Homo sapiens: one gene and its partners. The protein of the gene in region 3 purifies or fractionates together with the protein of the main gene of each other region. This does not show direct contact. Each region holds a gene or a part of one and is shown on either strand. Other genes may lie near its edges.

The links. Proteins that work in one complex are often made in the same cells at the same time.
Region 1: the proteins of SLC9B2 (region 3) and UBR3 purify together in Homo sapiens (affinity purification with mass spectrometry; one large-scale study listed by BioGRID and IntAct). This does not show direct contact.
Region 2: the proteins of SLC9B2 (region 3) and FBXO21 purify together in Homo sapiens (affinity purification with mass spectrometry; one large-scale study listed by BioGRID and IntAct). This does not show direct contact.
Region 4: the proteins of SLC9B2 (region 3) and MKI67 purify together in Homo sapiens (affinity purification with mass spectrometry; one large-scale study listed by BioGRID and IntAct). This does not show direct contact.

The regions. Positions count from the first base shown.
Region 1 is NC_000002.12:169,833,954-169,837,453, reverse strand, and holds part of UBR3 (E3 ubiquitin-protein ligase UBR3), read right to left. Parts: intron 1-3,500. UniProt on the Homo sapiens protein: E3 ubiquitin-protein ligase which is a component of the N-end rule pathway. Does not bind to proteins bearing specific N-terminal residues that are destabilizing according to the N-end rule, leading to their ubiquitination and subsequent degradation.
Region 2 is NC_000012.12:117,180,471-117,183,970, reverse strand, and holds part of FBXO21 (F-box only protein 21), read left to right. Parts: intron 1-3,500. UniProt on the Homo sapiens protein: Substrate-recognition component of the SCF (SKP1-CUL1-F-box protein)-type E3 ubiquitin ligase complex.
Region 3 is NC_000004.12:103,070,262-103,073,761, forward strand, and holds part of SLC9B2 (sodium/hydrogen exchanger 9B2), read right to left. Parts: intron 1-3,500. UniProt on the Homo sapiens protein: Electroneutral Na(+) Li(+)/H(+) antiporter that extrudes Na(+) or Li(+) in exchange for external protons across the membrane. Uses the proton gradient/membrane potential to extrude sodium.
Region 4 is NC_000010.11:128,105,924-128,109,423, forward strand, and holds part of MKI67 (proliferation marker protein Ki-67), read right to left. Parts: coding exon 1-3,500. UniProt on the Homo sapiens protein: Protein that associates with the surface of mitotic chromosomes and acts both as a chromosome repellent during early mitosis and chromosome attractant during late mitosis.

The sequences.
Region 1 (3,500 bases), on a different chromosome or scaffold from region 3:
CCCAGGCTGGAGTGCAATGGCGTGATCGCGGCTCACCGCAACCTCTGCCTCCCAGGTTCAAGCAATTCTCTTGCCTCAGCCTCCCGAGAAGCTGGGATTACAGCCACACGCCACCACACCCGGCTAATTTTGTATTTTTAGTAGAGATGGGGTTTCTCCATGTTGGTCAGGCTGGTCTCGAACTCCCGACCTCAGGTGATTCACCTGCCTCGGCTTCCCAAAGTGCTGGGATTACAGGCGTGAGCCTCCGGGCCCGTTCAGGCAGTTCTTTATAGCAGTGCGAAAACAGACTAATACAGACCTCAATCTCATACTACATGTAAAAATAAATTCCAGATGGACAAAAGACCTAAGTGTACAATGAAAAACCTTAAATCTTTCAGTAGAAAACATATAAGCATTTTTTTAAACCAAGGTGAAGAAGATTTCTTTAACAAGATACAAATAATACAAACTGTAGAAGAAAAACTACATTTTTAATTTAAAATCGTTTACAACAAAATTATATATTTCAAGGTAAAAAGACAAGACACAAACTAGAAGATGAAATTAAGTATTTATACAACAAAGGATCAGCATCTAGAGTATGTACAGCATTCTTAAAACTCAGTAAAACAGAAAAACAAAACAGGCAAATAATATGAACCAGCAGTTCACCAAGAAAGAAGCCCAAATGGCCCCAAAACATATGAAAAGATGTTCAACTTTACTAGTCAAGAAAATATAAATTTTAAAAAGATGTTTGTATCCAACAGATTGGTAAAATATTATAAATTTATATATATAACACCAAGTGTCTTTTGGTTTTTTTTTTTTTAAGTTCTGAATTACATGTGCAGGATGTACAGGTTACATAGGTAAATGGTTGCTGTGGTGGTTTGCTGCACCTATCAACTCATCAACTAGGTATGAAGCCCAGCATGCATTAGCTATTTTTTCTGATGCTCTCCCTCTCCCTGCCCCCGACCCAACAGGCCCCTGTGTGTGTTGTTCCCTTCGTGGTGTCCATGTGTTCTCATTAACACCAAGTTTCAATAAGCAGAAAAACAAGACCTCAAATTCCTGGTGGGGCCAGGCGTGGTAGCCCATGCCTGTAATTCCAGCACTCTGGGAGGCTGAGGCGGGAAGATCACCGGAGGTCAGGAGTTCGAGACCAGCCTGGCCAATATGGTGAAACCCCCATCTCTACTAAAAATATGAAAATTAGCTAGGCATGGTGGCGGCCGCCTGTAATCCCAGCTACTCAGGCGGCTGAGGCAGGAGAATTGCTTGAACTCAGGAGGCGGAGGTTGCAGTGAGCCGAGATCGCACCATTGCACTCCAGCCTGAGTCTGATGGGGACAGAGCGAGTTTCCATCTCAAAAAAAAAAAAAAAAAAAAAAAAAATATATATATATATATATATATATAGAGAGAGAGAGAGAGAGAGAGAGAGAGAGAGAGAGAGAGAGAGAGAGAGACAGTGCACACAGGAATTTCAGGAAAATGGTTAACGTCTGGAGAGGAAAAGAGAAAGGGAAAGGTGGGTTGACCTTTCTTTGGTTTTTTGACTAAAAGCAACTCTAGAGCAAACATGGCAAAAGGTTAATATCTATTCATCTCAATGGTAAGTACAAAGGTATCTGTTATACTACTTTTGTACTTTTCTGTAAATTCAAATTGTTTCATAATTGAAAATAGTTTTAACTGAGTTTTATAATGATTTAAAAATTAGGCCACGCACGGTGGCTCACGCCTGTAATCCCAGCACTTTGGGAGGCCAAGGCAGGTGGATTGCCTGAGGTCAGGAGTTCCAGACCAGCCTGACCAATATGGTGAAACCCCACCTCTACTAAAAATACAAAAATTAGCTGGGCATGGTGGCATGCACCTGTAGTCCCTGCTACTAGGGAGGCTGAGACAGGAGAACCGCTTGAACTCAGGAGGCAGAGGTTGCAGTGAGCCGAGATCATGCAACTGCACTCCAGCCTGGCAACAGAGTGAGACTCCATATCAAAACAAACAAACAAACAAAATATGAATATTTTAGGTGTAGTATTGGTATTGTGGTTTTGGGGGAGTTGTTTGTTTTTTGCTTTCTTTTCAAGAGATGAGGTCACTTCATGTTGCTGAGGCTGGAGTGCAGTGACTATTCCCAGGTGTGATCATAATCCACTGCAGCCTCTTACTCCCAGCCTCAAGCAATACTCCCAACTCAGCCTCGGGAGTAGCTGGGACTACAGGTGCGAGCCACCATACCTGACATTATTTTTTAATTGTGGTAAAATATAAATAACATAAAATTTACCATTTAAAACATCTTAAGTGTACAGTTTTAGTGGCATTAAGTACATTCACATTGTTTTGCAACCATCACAACCATCGATCTCAAGGACTTTTTCATCTTCCCAAACTGAAACTCTGTACCTGTTAAAAAAATAACTCCCCAATCTCCCCTTCCCTTGGCCTCTGATAATCACTATTCTACTTTCTGTCTGTATGAATTTGACTATTCCGGGCACTTCATATAGACCGAAGCATACAAGCATTTGTTCTTTTGTGCTGGGCCTATTTCATTTGGCATAAGGTCTTCAAGGTTTATCTACATTGTAACATTCTAATGTGTCAGAATTTTATTACTTTTTAAGGTTAAATATTCCATTGTACGTATATTCCACATATTGCTTACCCATTCATCTGCTGATGGACATTTGAGTTATGTTTTAGAGTTCACATCTCTTTACTGAGATGCATACTCAAATATTTTTAAATTAAATTATAAGGTATCTGATATTTGCTTCAAAATAGTCCTGGCTGGGACGAAAAAGCAGTGGGACAGGGAGATAACAGATGAAATGGGATATAACTTTTCACTTATGAGAGCAGCAAAGATCAGAAACACTGATACCACCATATATACTGCCAGAATATGGGGAAACAAATTGTTTCATACATTGTTGGCAGGAATGTAAATTAATTTCTTTGGAGGGTTCTATCAAAGTTGAATTTGCAAATTTCCTTCAACCAAGATATAACTTCTAGGAATGTATCCTCATACATAAGCTCACACACATATGAACAAGTGTATACAAGAATACTGACTGCAACAATGTTTACAACAGCCCAAGTCTGGAAACAATTTAAATGTCTATCAGTAGGGACTGACCGCAAAAATCATAGTACATTACAAAAACATGGAAATACAATGAAATACTATTTAACTTTAAAAATGAAGCAGTTCTACTTTTGAGATAGTATCCATAAATATGTTAAGGGGAAAAAAGCAAGCTACTGAAGAGAGTAACACTATTCAACCAGACATTCACGTGGTTCAATTTCTGGCTACCACAGATCAGAAAACCTAAAAACCTCCCACAACACAGGCCAGGCACCACACTGTGGCTCACGCCTATAATCCCAGCTCTTTGGGAGGCTGAGGCAGGTAGACTGCTTGAAGCCAGGAGTTCAAGACCAGCCTGGCCAACATGGTGAAATACCATCTCTACAAAAAATACAAAAAG
Region 2 (3,500 bases), on a different chromosome or scaffold from region 3:
AAAAGATAATTTAATATATTTAAACTCAGAGGGAAAAAATGGATTTTTAAAGAAATGGTACTGGACATAACTGAATATCCAGCTGGAAGAAAGGAAAACGTGCATCATATGCAAACATTTTTCCAAAGGATGAAACAACTGAAATTTTTAAATGATCACAGTGAACATTCCTCAAGAAAATAGGAGACTTTGTATAGTCTAAGGGAGACCACCTTAACCAAGAAGGACAATGCGGAGACAGTGAAAGAGCAGACACTTCTATATGGCCAAGAGAGCATGAACGAAGTCAGTAGAACTCAAGAGATATTGAAAAATGTTCAAAGGTTAGGAGGATGACATTCACAGAAGAACAAATCCTAACATCTAACAATCACGGAAAACTTTTAATACACTATTCAAAAAGTGTTAAATAGGCCGGGTGCAGTGGCTCACGCCTGTAATCCCAGCACTTTGGGAGGCCAAGTCCTTGGATCATCTGAGGTCAGGAGTTCGACACCAGCCTGGCCAACATGATGAAACCCTGTCTCTACAAAAAATACAAAAATTAGCCAGACATGGTGGCAGGTGCCTGTAATCCCAGCTACTGGGGAGGCTGAGGCAGGATAATTGCTTGAACCTGGGAGGCGTGGGAGGCAGAGGTTGCAGTGAGCCGAGATCGCGCCATTGCATTCCAGCCTGGGTGACAAGAGTGAAACTCCGTCTCAAAAAAAAAAAAGTGTTAAACAGCAATGAGATACTGCCATTTTACATATCAGGTTCCCAAAAAAGATGAAAATGCATAGCTAGTAAAGACATATATTATAGTGTTTTTAGAAATAAATACGAATAGGTTACCCAACACACATATTTTGACCTTAAAAAAGGATTGTTTGTTTTAGAAACAGAGTCTCACTCTTGTCACCCAGGGTGGAATGCTGTGACGCAATCATAGCTCACTGCAGACTCAAACCCCTGGGCTCAAGTGACCCTCCTGCCTCAGCCTCCCGAGTAGTTAGGACTACAGGCACTTGCCACCACACCTGGCTAATTTTTTCTATTTTTTGTATAGATGGAGTCTTGCTTTGTTGCCCAGGCAGTTACTAAACTCCTGGCCTCAAGAGATCTTCCCAGCCAGGCATGGTGGCTCACGCCTGTAATCACAGCATTTTGAGAGGCCGAGGCGGGTTGATCACTTGAGGTCAGGAGTTCAAGACCAGCCTGTCCAACATGGTAAAACCCTGCCTCTACTAAAAATACAAAAATTAGCTGGGCATGGTGGCACACGCCTGTAATCCCGGCTACTCGGGAGGCTGAGACAGGAGAATTGCTTGAACCTGGGAGGCTGAGGTTGCAGTAAGCTGAGATTGCACCACTGCACTCCAGCCTGGGCGACAGACTCGGTCCAAAAAAAAAAAAAAAAAAAAAAAGATCCTCTTGCTGTGGCCTCCCAATGTGCTGGGATTACAGGTGTGAGCCACCACGCCCAGCCCTGTTTGTTTTTTTGAGACAGGGTTTCATCCTGTTGCCCAGGCTGGAGTACAGTGGTGCAATCATGGCTCACTGTAACCTTGAATCCTGTGTTCAGGGGATCCTCTGGCCTCAGCCTCCTGAGTAGCTAGGAATACAGGCATGTACCATCATGCCTGGCTAATTTTTATTTGGTAGAGACAGTGTCTCACTATGTTTCCCAGGCTGGTCTTGAACTCTTGACTTCAAGTGATCCTCCCACCTTGGCCTTCCAAAGTACTAGGACTATAAGTGTGAGCCAACAAACAAATAAGGTTGTTTTTAAATGATAGAATACCCCGCATTTAAAAATATTTTGGGATACCAGTTTTCATGGAAGACCCTGTTTGTTTTCATTCCTGGCAAATGCTTATGGTTTGGATATGGAAAGCATGGGAAGGAAAAAGTGTAGTTTCCATAAATGCCAAAGTATCAGCTTGAAATCAGTTTGTGTTTATGATGTGCTATGTGGTCTTAAAAACGAGTATGTCCTACAATAAAGATTAGAAACAGCATATTAAAAGGGCATACACTGGGCCAGGCACAGTGGCTCACACCTGTAATCCCATGACTTTGGGAGGCTGAGGTGGGCAGATCACCTGAGGTCAGGAGTTCGAGACCAGCCTGGCCAACATGGAGAAACGCCGTCTCTACTGAAAATACAAAAAATTAGCCGGGCATGGTGGCAGGCACCTGTAATCCCAGCTACTCAAGAGGCTGAAACAAGAGAATCGCTTGAACCTGGGAAGTGGAGGTTGCAGTGAGCTGACATTATGCCGCTGCACTCCAGCCTGGGTGGCAAAGTGAGACTCTGTCTCAGATAGATAGATAGCTAGATTAGATAGATAGATAGATAGATAGATAGATAGATAGATAGATAGATAGACTGTCTCAGATAGATAGATCGATCGATCGATAGACTGTCTCAGATAGATAGATAGATATAAATAGATAGATAGATAAATTCATACATTGTACCTGAGAAAAGTGTCACAGAATGACCAATACTGAGACATACTTTAGTAAAATTGCTGGATTTTAAAGACAGGAAAGTCCTTTGAGCATCCAAGCAAAAAAGGTAAAGTCATTTATAAGGAAAAGAAAATAAGAATATCATCAGACTTTTCAACAGAATTTTTTGTGCCAAAGGAAAAAATAGCTTAAGATACTCAATGATCTAAGGAAATGTCAACCAAGGATTTTTATATCCAGCCAAACTGACTTCCAGATACAAAGACTGCACAGAAACTTAACAACTTAACAAGAATTCAGTGACTTTTCAGTCCTTCCTGAGAGATCTCCTGGAAAATGAATTTCAAATGACCAAAAACCACTCCCCGCCCCAAAAAAAACAAAACAGAGAAACACTGATATAAGGACTGGCAGTGAGCACTAAACATGTATTTATTTTTAGATTTAAATTCAAATGAGGGCTCTAGGGGAGAAAATATTTCATGTGTAACGTCTGTAAGACATGTCAGTATAAATACAATGCATCTGTTTTAAAAAATGAATGGACAGTGGGGGAGAACATATGCAAAATATTTAGCTGTTTTCAGTAATCATAAAAGTGATGAGTAATCCCAGCACTTTGGGAGGCTGAGGTAGGCGGATCACAAGGTCAGGAGACTGAGACCATCCTGGCCAACATGGTGAAACCTCGTCTCTACTAAAAATACATAAAAAAAAAAAAATTAGCTTGGTGTGGTGATGCAGCCTGTAATCCCAGCTATTTGGGAGGCTGAGGCAGGAGACTAGGTTGAACCCGGGAGGCGGAGATTGCAGTGAGCTGAGATCGCACCACTGCACTCCAGCCTGGCGACAGAGCGAGACTCCGTCTCAAAAGAAAAAAAAAAGTGATGAAAACATTAGTCTTGTTATTCTGAGGGCTGGTGTGTGTGTATGAGAGAGAGATGTGGAATGAAGTAAATGAATAACGATGTGATATTCTAATTTTACCACCTGTGATATCCTGGAGAAGCAGAATTCTCCTGGAATAAAGAAGACATAGATAT
Region 3 (3,500 bases):
TAAAGTGACCATGTTCATGGTATTTATTATTTATAGTCATTGGGTCTTGAAATTACAAAAATGACCTTTGAAGGGCCATAAAAAATGTCATGAAATGCTTATTAGAAAGTTTATTCTCCTTACTCATAGAGAGGCTCTTAAGGACTCATGCAGAGCCCATTAACCCTTATTTTGTTTTGTTTGTTTGTTTGATTTTTGAGACGAAGTCTCCCTCTGTTGCCCAGGCTATAGTGCAGTGGCATGATCCTAGCTCACTGCAACCTCCGCCGCCTGGGTTCAAGAGACTCTCCTGCCTCGGCCTTCTGAGTAGCTGGGATTACAGGTGCCCGCCACCTCGCCTGGCTAATTTTTTGTATTTTTAGTAGAGATGGGTTTTCGCCATGTCAGCGAGGCTGGTCTCCAACTCCTGACCTCAGTGATCCACCCGCCTAGGCCTCCCAAAATGCTGGGATTACAGGCATGAGCCACCATGCCCGGCCCTTATTTCGAAAACAATTCTAATGACTTTGCTCCTTTGTTTTTCAAACCCTCAGAAGATTAGGTGTTAAATATTAAAATTCAGGAAGAGATTGCTGTGATAGAGGCAAATTGAGAGCAGCATTAGTGACTGATGACAGTGAAAGAGATGAAAAAGACAGCAATCTAAGAGTCATTTATAGTGGGGGCGACAGAGCAAGACTGTATAAAAAAAGAAAAAAGAAAAAAGTTTTCTTAACCTTTTCTCCCCACTTGAAAGAATTGTCCTTAAGAGATCAAGAATATAAGCAGTTTGATATATGTACCTGTTAAGAAGGAAACAGAAAAAAAAAATCCTTTAACAGCAGTTGCCTTTGGGAAGGGAAATGGAAGAGGAGTGGCTGGACTTTCTTTCTTATTTTCTAAGAAAGATTTTCTTATGTAGGATTTTCTTATGTAATTTGATATATATATATATTTTGTTGTTGTTGTTGTTGTTTTTTTGAGATGGATTCTCGCTCTGTCACCCAGGCTGGAGTGCAGTGGCATGATCTTGGCTCACTGCAACCTCCGCCTCCTCGGTTCAAGTGATTCTCCTACCTTGGCCTCCCAAGTAGCTAGGACTAGAGGCATGCACCACCACGCCTGGCTAATTTTTGTATTTTTTTTTTTTTTTTTTTTAGAAGGAGTCTCACTCTGTCACCAGGCTGAAGAGGGATTGCAATGGCACGATCTCAGCTCACTGCAACCTCCACCTCCCAGGTTCAAGTGATTCTCCTGCCTCAGCCTCCTGAGGGACTACAGGCACATGCCACCATCCCTTGCTAATTTTTGTATTTTTAGTAGAGACGGGGTTTCACCATGTTGGCCAGGATGGTCTCGATCTCTTGACCTCATGATCCACCTGCCTCAGCCTCCCAAAGTGCTGGGATTACAGGTGTGAGCTACCACACCCGGCTAATTTTTGTATTTTTAATAGGGATGGGTTTCACTATGTTGGCCAGAATGGTCTCAAACTCCTGACCTCAAGTGATCCACTGGCCTTGGCCTCCTAAAGTGCTGGGATTAGAGATGTGAGCCACCCTGCCTGGCCCTAATTTTAAATACATTTAAAAATAATCTACTCAATTCCTAAAGCTTTAGAGAAAAGAAAATGGTACCACATTTCTTGGTAATATTTCTCATAGATACAGTCTGGTGATTTGATTTGAGGTAACTTAATAACACCTGCCACAATTTAAAATCATTTTTTGTAGTTGTGATTTTTCAAAGAAGATGAGTAACTGCCCAGAATCACCAATAGCAGTGGTTTTCAAAATTTTCAAGTTTGGCTTTCATGTTTTTTTTTTTTTTTTTTTTGAGGTGGAGTTTCGCTCTTTTGCCCAGGCTGGAGTGCAGTGGCGAGATCTCAGCTCACTGCAACCTCTGCCTTCCGGTTTCAAGCTATTCTCCTGCCTCAGCCTCCCGAGTAGCTGGGATTAAAGGTGCCGGCCACCATGCCCAGCTACTTTTTCTATTTTTAGTAGAGATGGGGTTTCACCATGTTGGCCAGGCTGGTCTCAAACTCCTGACCTCATGATCTGCCCGCCTTGGCCTCCCAAAGTGCTGGGATTACAGGCGTGAGCCACCGCACCCAGCCCTGGTCTTCATATCTTTATGTCAAATATCTTTCATCAAATGAAACCTAATCCTTAAATCCTACAAATGGAACGACTAAGGTGGCGCTGCAGGAGCCCTGTCTACTCACCCCTGTTCCTTCTGGCAAGTGGAGCATACTTTGGAAACCATTTCTGTAAATATGTTTTCACATAGAGAGATATTTGTTAAATGTTCTCTTTTTCATATTATCTTACTAATGTAAATGTTTACAAGTACTTTCTGTAATATTCCAGAAGAAATAAAGGAACTATCAACTTACAAATGTCCGTAGGCTCTCGGTCAAGTAAAATAGACTTACTGCTATCATTTCAGTTACTGCTAAAAGATATGGATAAAGACTTTTTATTCTTGCTATTTGCTGCCTGTGATTTGGATAGGCTGACATTTAAAGGAGTAATCTTATGGAGAATTTACATATATTGCTTGCTATGGCTTGAATGTTTGTGTCCCTCCAAAATTCAGATTTTGGAATGTAACTGCCAAGGTGATGGTATTAAGAGGGAGGTACTTTGGGGAAGTGATTAAGTCACCAGCACTCAACCCTCATGAATGGGACTAGTGCTCTTATAAAAGAGGTCAAAGGGAGCAGCCTAGTCCCTTTGGCTCTTTCCCTTCCACCATCTGAGAACACAGCATTAGTCTCTTCCTCCATGTGAAGAAGACATGGCAAGAAGGCACCATCTTGCAAGCAGAGATCAAGTGTGTAACAGACATCAAATCTAATTAGCACCTTGACCTAGGACTTCCCAGCCTCCAGAACTGTGAGAAATAAATTTGATTATTTATAAATTAATTAGTTTGTGGTATTTTGTTACAGTAACAAAAATGGACTAAGACATTGCTAGAGTACTCTGGGTTGTATTCATGCCTTTGAAAGAGCATCACTATGATTGTTCAATACTCTATAATGATAATAATAACAACAATCTCCTGCCTTTGTGTTCATCCATTCATGTGTTGAACGTATAGGTTCTCAGTCTCATACAGTATTTCTACATAGAACATACAGAAACATTCCAGTTTCTGTATTTGCTTATCAACACTGATCTAATGGTCATTTCCCAAAAGGAGCCCTACCCAGCAATGAGGAATTCAGATCAGGCTCAGAGTAGGGCTTAACACTTTCTTAGACAATTAATTACTAAAATGACTAACAGTGTTTCCCTGAATGAGAACTACCTTATCTGAAAGACTTAGGTGTGTCAAATACATGTGGCCAAGTTACCAAAGGAAAACAACCGCTATTTTATTTGGTTAATTGATTTAGTAATTTCATTGACTCATGAAGGAAAACACTATATAATGAGATAAGAATAAAAGGAAATTACCCCTACATAAGGGACCCAATACTTGCTTTCATCCTTTCTATTCTCTCTCCTCACCAA
Region 4 (3,500 bases), on a different chromosome or scaffold from region 3:
GGTCATTGATTCCTCAGTGTGACCTGGTGTCTGGAAGAGCTCTTTGAAGCCAGCCAGATCTTCTAGAGCCTTGGCCTTTTCTTTAGGAGTTTGTGGCCGTCTCTTGCTGCCAGGTAAATTTCCTAGCAGGTCCAGTTTCTCCACTGGAGTCCCCACAAATGTGTTGATGTCTTTCTCTTCACCTACTGCTGCTTTAGGCGTGTGCATGGCTTTGCCTGCTGATGGTGTTAGTTTCCTGAATGCTAAAAATTCTTCCTCTACGTCTGCTTTCTTGAGGCTTCTCTTGGGCCGTTGCTTTGTGTTTGTTGGGGTGTCCGCTGGGTCTGATTGCGGAGATTTGCAGAGTATTTTTTTGGTAGTTTTCTCATCAGTCGTGGGGTTATCAGTGCATGGTGTCTGGAAAAGCTCTCTGAAGCCAGTCAGTTCTTCTAGAGCCTGGGCCTTTTCCTTACGAGTTTGTAGCCGTCTATTGCTGCCAGGTAAATTTCCTGGCTGGTCCAGTTTCTGCACTGGAGTTCCCAAAAACGTGTTGATGTCTTTCTCTTCACCTACTGCTGGTTTGGGTGTGTGCATGGCTTTGCCTGCTGATGGCGTTTGTTTCCTAAATGCTAAAAATTCTTCTTCAGTGTCTGCTTTCCTGAGACTTCTCTTGGGCTGTGGCTTGGAGCTTGTTGGGGTGTCCACTAGGTCTGGCTGTGAAGCTCTGTAGGATACTTTGGTAGTTTTTTCGTTAGTCATTGATTCCTTAGTGTGACTTGGTGTCTGGAAGAGCTCGATGAAGCCGGCCAGGTCTTCAGGGACTTCAGACTTTCCCTTAGGAGTTCTCAGCTGCCTCTTGCTGCCAGTTAGACTTGCTGCTGAGTCTAAGATCTGCTTTGGAGACTCCATAAATGCTTTCATGCTCTTACCATCTCCTGTTGGCTCTGTGTGTGTGTGTGTAGTCTCTCCTGATGTCTGTGTGAGCTTGCCAACTGCTAGGAGCTCTTCTTTCACGCCCACTTTCCCCAGGGATGTCTTGAGCCGTCGCTTGGAGCTTGCTGGGTTTTTGTCTGGGTCTGGTTGTGAAGATTTGCAGGCTACTTTGGCAGTTTTATCGTTAGTCATTGATTCCTCAGTGTGACCTCGTGTCTGGAAGAGCTCTTTAAAGCCAGCCAGGTCTTCTAGAGCCTGGGCCTTTTCCTTAGGAGTTTGTAGCCGTCTCTTGCTGCCAGTTAAGTTCTCTGTCAGGTCCAGTTTCTGCACTGGAGTTCCCATAAATGCGTAGATGTTTTTCTCACCACTTACTGCTGGTTTGGGTGTGTGCATGGCTTTGCCTGCTGATGGTGTTCGTTTCCTGAGTGCGAAGAATTCTTCTTCTACGTCCACTTTCCTGAGACTTCTCTTGGACTGTGGCTTGGAGCTTGTTGGTGTGTCCACTGGGTCTGGTTGTGATCTGCAGGCTATTTTGGTAGTTTTCTCGTGAGTCGTGGGCTTGTCAGTGCATACTGGTGTCTGGAAGAGCTCTTTCAAGCCAGCCAGGTCTTCTAGGGGTTGGGCCTTTTCCTTAGTTTTTGGGTGCCTCTTGCTACCAGTTACACTTGCTGCTGGGTCCAGTTTCTGTTTTGCAGTTTCCCTAAACGCGTTGATGCTTTTATCCTCACCTCCTGGTACTTTATCTGTGTGTGTGGTTTCCCCTGATGTCTGTGTGAGCTTCTTCAGGGCTGAGAGCTCCTTCTGTACGTCCCTTTTCTCCAAAGGTGTCTTGGGCTGCCTTCTTGTGCTTGTTGGGGTGTCTGCTGATTCTGGTGGAGAAGATTCGCAGGGCATTTTAGTAGTTTTGCCAGCAGCCACTGCTTCTTCAGTATGACCAGGGGTCTGGAAGAGCTCTTTAAAGCCAGTCAGGTCTTCCAGAGCCTGGGCCTCTTCCTTAGGAGTTTGTGGCCGTCTCTTGCTGCCGGTTAAGTTCTCTGTCAGGTCCAGTTTCTGCACTGGAGTTCCCACAAATATGATGATGTCTTTCTCTTCACCTACTGATGGTTTAGGCGTGTGCATGGCTTTGCCTGCTGATGGCATTAGATTCCTGCACGCTAAGAGTTCTCCCTCTACATCTGCTTTCCTGATACTTCTCTTGGGTCGTTGCTTTGTGCTTGTTGGGGTGTCCACTGGGTCTGACTGTGGAGAGTCGCAGGGTATTTTAGTGGTTTTACCAGCAGCCACTAATTCCTCGGTGTGACCAGGAGTCTGGAAGAGCTCTTTAAAGCCAGCCAGGTCTTCTAGAGCCTGGGCCTTTTCCTTAGGAGTCTGTAGCTGTCTTTTGCTGCCAGGTAAAGTTCCTGCCAGGTCCAGTTTCTGCACTGGAGTTCCCATAAATGCTTTAATGTCTTTCTCATCACCTCCTGCTGGTTTGGGCGTAAGCATGGCTTTCCCTGCTGATGGTGTTAGTTTCCTGAGTGCTAAGAATTCTTCCTCTACATCTGCTTTCCTGAGACTTCTCTTAGGCCATTGCTTTGTGCTTGTTGGAGTGTCCACTGATTCTGGTGGTGGAGATTTGCAGGCTATTTTGGTAGTTTTCTCATCAGTCATTGATTCCTCAGAGGGACCTGGTGTCTGGAAGAGCTCTTTGAAGCCAGCCAGGTCTTCTAGTGACTGGGCCTCTTCCTTAGGCGTTCTTGGCCACTTCTTCATTCCAGTTACACGGGCTGCTGGGTCCAGGATCTGCTTTGGAGACTCCTTAAACGTTCTGATGCTCTTGCCATCTCCTGCTGGCTCTCTGTGCGTGTGCGTGGTCTCCCCTGACGTCCGTGTGAACTTGCCGACTGCTAGGAGCTCTTCTTTCACACCTACTTTCCCCAGGGATGCCTTCAACTGTTGTTTTGTGTGTGTTGGGGTGTTTATTGGTTCTGGTTGTAATGACTGGCAGGGCATTTTAGTGATTTTGCCTTTCTCACTCTTTGGTGCCTTGGCATGATCTTGGGTTTGGAGGAGATTCTGGCCACGTGCCGTGTCTTTCATGAGTTCTGTATCAGGCAAGCTCTTGAGGTCTGTCAGGTCAGACATTGGTGCACATTTCTGCCCCCAAGTTCTTGATCTCTTCATTGCTTTCATCTTTTCATCGTTTTCTTTTAATTCAATATTTTCCTTATATGTCTCAAAAGGTCTTTCTATTTCCTTCATCTCTCCTTCTCTCCTTTGTTGTAGTAGTGTTGCCTTCTGACCTCTTTTTAGGATGCACTCAACAATTTCTGTATTTGTTTCTTCACTCTTACTTTCCACAGGTAGCTTCTGTATATTCCTGAACTCTGTAGACCTTCCTGACCTGTTTGCAGTGGATACTGTTTTTGAAGGCTCTGTCTCAGTATCTGAAGTTTTTGTCTCCAGAGAAGTCATTTTGTAGGTGTTCCTGGGCGTTTTTGCTACGTTTCCATTTTCTCTAATACACTGCCGTCTTAAGGGAGGGCTTGCAGAGCATTTATCAGATGGCTGTTTTGCTGCATTCTGTGCACTGAAGAACACATTTCCTC